Regions from separate parts of the Homo sapiens genome. Here region 1 is linked to region 2. A link means that fine-mapping ties the variant in region 2 to the expression of a gene that starts in the linked region. Tissue or cell type: whole blood. Region 2 holds a variant in brackets; the other region holds the start of a gene. All regions are shown on one strand. Distances are from middle to middle.

Evidence for each region. PIP is the estimated chance that this variant, and not a neighbour inherited with it, causes the effect.
Region 1: AKTIP starts here. The variant in region 2 is fine-mapped to the expression of AKTIP in whole blood (TOPMed, PIP above 0.99).

Annotation. Positions count from the first base shown.
Region 1 is chr16:53,501,843-53,504,342 of GRCh38, reverse strand. It overlaps AKTIP (AKT interacting protein), which reads left to right and starts at 1,134. Exons shown (of 10, transcript NM_022476.4): 1 at 1,134-1,196. RefSeq lists silencers at 1-56, 777-1,016, 1,037-1,106, 1,367-1,666 and enhancers at 377-476, 937-1,436, 1,437-1,938.
Region 2 is chr16:53,385,820-53,388,666 of GRCh38, reverse strand. No RefSeq gene overlaps it. Among named protein-coding and RNA genes, the nearest start is that of RBL2, 47 kb to the left of the region's middle. The variant C/T (reference allele first, on the strand shown) is at 1,340.

The sequences.
Region 1 (2,500 bases), 120 kb before region 2:
GGTGTCACAGACAGGTCAGTGCCTCTGGTGTCTAGAAAAGGGGCAGGGGCTTGCGGGGAGAGGGCTGTCGCGCAAGTGTGGAAGTGGAGTGCCGAGATTGGACGGACTAACCACGGGGAGGCACCGTTGGTAAGAACAGGCCTGGAAAGCAGCTGGCAGCAGTCACAGAATTAGGCCAGAGAGAGACCTCCATGGGAAAGCAGACGGGAGGTCCAAATGAGAGCGTGTGAATTAAAAAAAAAAAAAAAAAAAAAGACCAGGAACTATGTTGCTATGGGAGAGGTTCTCCAACTTCAGTGTGCGCCAGAATCAGCAGCGAACTGTGACAGATGTGGATTCCTGGTCCTCAGCCTCCCCCCTCCCCCCAGCCCCCGGCCCCCACTCGGATGCTGCAGGTCGGGGCCGACACACACAGATTTACAAAGCTCCTCTGGCTGCTCTAGTGCCCAGGGCCCACTTGGAGCTGAGCTCCCTTCAGCTCCAGCCTTCAGCTCCTGCACTGATGGAGAGAACGGGCGTTTCTTGATGCCACGCCAAGTGTCCTTCTGACCCCTGGTACCCTGTGGGCCCGACGTGGCGGCCTCGGGCCTCGCAGCGCCGCCCAACGCAGTAGGACCTAGCGATGGGAGCCACTGGGCAGTCGCGCGGCCCGGCCCTCCCCAAAAGCTTGGCTTGCAGACGTTAGCGTATGCCCCAGCCCCTGCGCATGGCGGTTGCGCTGTGGGCTGTGCGAATAAACCTCCGGGAAGGTCTCCGTGGTGACTGGCAGACGCCCTGGCCAATTGTGACCCGGCGCTTGTTTGTCTCTGCCCCATCCCTCCCCGGGGGGCCGATACTTCCATGACTGACAGGCCGTCCCAGGCGCTGTTACGTAAGGGGAGGGTCAAGTGCAGTCCCACCCAAACCGGGGTGATTTGATTTGCAGGACCGAGTGTGTTCTTCCCAACGCCCCCGGAAGAACGTCTTTGACGGGCAGGTGTGAGAGCCAGTTGGCGCCGGGAGGCCAGGCGGAAGCCTCGGGCCCCAGGATCGTGCAGCAGGGGGCGGAGCCCGCTGCCGAGGGCAGGGCAGGGCAGGGCAGGGCGGGGTGGGGCGGGGCGGGGATCAAGCAGGGGCAGGGCTGGCGCTGCGGCGGGAGATGCTGTCGGGCCGCGGCGGCGCTTGGCAGCCAGGAGCTCTGCATTGAAGGCACTGGGGTGAGGCTTACTGCCCGGCAGGCTGGTGGGTACGCGAGGGCTGAGGTGTCTGTAAATCTGGCCGCCAGCCTCCACGGGCCCGGCATTTGTCCATCTTTCTAGGCGCTCGCGACTCGGCGACGGCGGCCGCAGTGGGACACGGAGGCGGGGCCGGGCACCTGTGCGCGTTTGCAGGCACCTGCTGCGCTGGCCGCCTCGCAGCCCGGGACTGCTGCTGGGGACTGCGGCTGGAGCTGGGCTGGCCCGGCCCGAGGGAGAGGGGGGCCCAGCTGGCTCGCCCCGGCCCGTGCCCGCCCTCCCCGGCCGGGTCCCGACCCCGAGCTCTGGTTAAGGGGGCGTCGCCGGGCCCCAGAGCCCCCCCACTGGAGGGGCCCGCGGCTCCCGGGCCAGCATCGAGCTAGCTGCGAGGCCAGGACAGGGCCCCCGCCTTGCATCACCTCGAGACAGGTTTGTCCAGATTCCCTGAGTGCTCAGAGACGGGTTTCCGCCCGCGGTGAGGGTGCCGGTCCGAGGCCGCCGCGGGTCCCGGCTGTCCCCAGCGAGCCTGGCCCGGGCCGTTTTCATCTTTTTTTTTCTGGCCCCTGCTCTGTCTCCTCTTAACGTGTAATTTCTTAAGTCCGATTCGGGGTGATGTGAGTGCGCTGTGGCATGTAGAGTAACAGCAGCACTCATGTTTTAGCCTAGTTTTAGCTCTGCCACGCACTGTCATTCGCGCAGGCTGAAGACCCAGACTTCTCAGCTGGGTGATGTAAAGGAATGCAGCCGTGGCCAAACAGGCAGAAATTCTAAAATTGTTTCCAAGTGACAAGGATGTAACATGTCTTGCTTCCATCTATGTCATTCCTCTCAGAACATGTATGCTGTGCTTGTCCTAGACTAGACCCTGAAAAGTGTGCTACAGTTTCTCGTGATTATGTTGCTGCTGGAAACATTGGATTAAAAGATCCATAGCAAAGTTAGGCAGCAGAAGACAATACCTCCTGCTTAATGACAGGCAGAACTGGGGACAAAATTTACTGGATTCTTAAAGAGAATCCTAACGCGTTAGACCTTTAAGAGACTTTACAGGTTTGCACCAGCCCATTAAATGTATGTTGTGGAGCACACCACTGTGTCCCAAGGGATCCGGTCCCGTGTTAGGTGTGTCCTAGAGGACACTGGGGTGCTGCACATTACTGCTAGATCTGAAAATCAGTGTCTTCATTTGAGCCAAAGGGGAACATGCCCCCGCACATTTTTGATATCTCAAGTATATTCAGTGTGTCATACTCACCTTTAAAGGCAGATTTGCGGAGAACTGTTGT
Region 2 (2,847 bases):
AAAATCAGTTTAGGAATTACAGTAACAATATTGATGGGCCATCATTTAATAGGCACTGTTAAAAGATGGGGAGATGCAGGTAGAGTAGGCAGCTTGAGAGGAAAAATCAAGGAAATACACCATCAAGAGCAGAAGCCCTTATACACTACTCTTCTGCAGACACTGGGAGGGGCTGCCAGGGGCTTGCCAATTTTTGAGGCAATATGTAGAGTTGGGAGAATGAGACCCCAGGAGTATTTATTCAAAGTTGAGAGGGGAAAGAACAGTCTTCAGGCCTACAACAAAGAGCTAAAGGTTTTCTTAGACAGGTTCTCCCATCCCCTACCCCAAGGCCTCTGCTATTAAAAAGGAACAGAGAATGCAACATCAAATGCATTAGATGCAGCTTAGAAGACAGATGTCACAAATATTTTTGGAGGAGTGTCTACAAGAACCCATCTGTACTAATCACAGCCAATTAGAGGTCTGGCTAAAACCAGCCACGTTAGGATCAATAATATTTTTTAAAAAGGATCCTGTCATTATCATTATGCACAGAAATAACACCAATACAGGAGAGAAAGAACATGGTATGAAAAACATCCAAGGAAGAACACATTCTGGGAAAACTAAGATCCAAGGAATACAAGAAATCTTCTAAAAATGCTTGTGCTATAGAGTAATTCAATAAGGACATGAATTTAATGAAATACACACCACCCAACATGATTTTTTTAAAAAGAGAGATGAAAAGCTATGAATTACTCTGAGAACAAAAATGTATTATGGAGCTAATAAATTTAGTAGGGATTCTCAAACGTGCAAAGACAAAGAGAAGAACATTTTTCTTCTCATTATTCAAGATACAGGTTGAGAGGAGAACATTTTAACTACTTGATACTTAAATCCACCCCCCTACCCAAGAAAAAAGGGAGGATCACAATGAAGAACTAGGGAATAAAATTACTACAGAATGAATGGTAATGAGGGCTGTTTTTTTACCCCAATCTTTATACATTTTATTTTTCTTTCTTGGCTTACTACATTGTTGTTAAGACCAGACATATTTTTTTCTTTTTTGTCCTTGTAAGAGGGTGGTTGGAACCATTTAATTGATCAATGTAGAACACATGGTATAATGAGAATTTAAATGTTAAATTGAGAAAAACAGTTACAGGAATAAATATGGGTCCGGAACAAAAATTTAAATAAGTAAATCTTGACAAAGTAAAAATAATTTTACAACAATTTAAAAAACAGTCCATAGAGGACAAAAGAGAGGGAGAAGAAATGTAAGCAAGGTTGAATGTCTAATCATGTGGACACAAACATACTGAGTCTCTCATAACTGTCTTACCTT[C/T]TTTCTTTCACTCATAGAGAAATATTACAAAACAAGGATTTCCTCTTGTTCAATATAGTTCTCTTGAAGAACAGCAATTTCTTTAGTTCTCTAGTTACTTTTTCTTTTTAAATTTGAGTAACATTAATTTTTTTGTTATTAAACCTATTTATTACTAAACAATGCCAGTTTTCTTTCTGTCTCTTCATCCATTCATCTTTTCATCTCTCTTTTCGCCTTACTACAATGCCCAACACTTATCTCCATAAATATTCATGAAGAGAGACAGCCAGGTGTTCACAGTTAACACTGAAAGGGAAATGCATGCACTTTCTGCTTTGTCAAACTACTATGTACTGCTGATTGCTAAGTAAAATAAAATACTTTAAAAAATAAAAACAATGGACTTCCACTTCCAGACAAAATGGAGTAAACACCTTTCTCTGCTTCTCCTATTAAGTGTAGATAACAATGCTGGAAGTTATATTTAAAACAAACATAAGATGAATATGAAAGGTAGAGAAAAGCAGGCTGGCTAAGGCCCCTGGGACTTGGGTGGTTTTGTCATCTCATGTATTCTATAGTTGGAGCTGAAGAAGAATCAACCTGGAAATGGTAATGGAAATAGAGGAAAAAAAAAAAAGCCCCACTAAAGGATCAGCCTAACAAGCCAGAAAACTTTTAGACAGTAACCACCCAACTCTAGGAAAACACCACAGGAAAAAAATGTGGCTCCATCCCCACCACCTTCAGCTAAGGAGGGGGCAGGGAGGCAGACTTCCATGCTCACCCCACCACCCAGGGCTCTCTAAAAAGAGATTTTTAAAGCACATCCCATGAAAAGGCCCCAGTGAGCAATTACATAAATGCTTGAATCAAAAGAAAAGGTAGAAAAATAGAAGTAAAATAGAAGACACACAGAAAAATCAAATAAAAATTTTAAGAATAAAAACATGAGGCCGGGCACAGTGGCTCATGCCTGTAATCCCAGTACTTTCAGAGGCCGAGGCGGGGGGATCACAAGTTCAGGAGATCGAGACCATTCTGGCTAATACAGTGAAACCCTGTCTCTACTAAAAATACAAAAAAATTAGCCGGGCGTGGTGGCCAGTGCCTGTAGTCCTGGCTGCTCAGGAGGCTGAGGCAGGAGAATGGTGTGAACCCGGGAGGCAGAGCTTGCAGTGAGCCGAGACCGCGCCACTGCATTCCAGCCTGGGTGACAGTGCGAGACTCTGTCTAAAAAAAAAAAAAAAAGAAAAGAAAAGAATAAAAACATGGAATAATTGCGCCTGTAATCCCAGCAATTTGAGAGGCCAAGGTGGGCAGATCACCTGAGGTCAGGAGTTTGAGACCAGCCTAGCCAACATAATGAAGCCTTGTCTCTACTAAAAATATAAAAATTAGCCAGGTGTGGTGGTAGGCACCTACAATCCCAGCTACTCAGGAGGCTGAGGCAGGAGAATCACTTGAGCCTGGGAGGTGGAGGCTGCAGTGAGCAGAGATCATGCCACTGCACTCCAGCCTGGGTG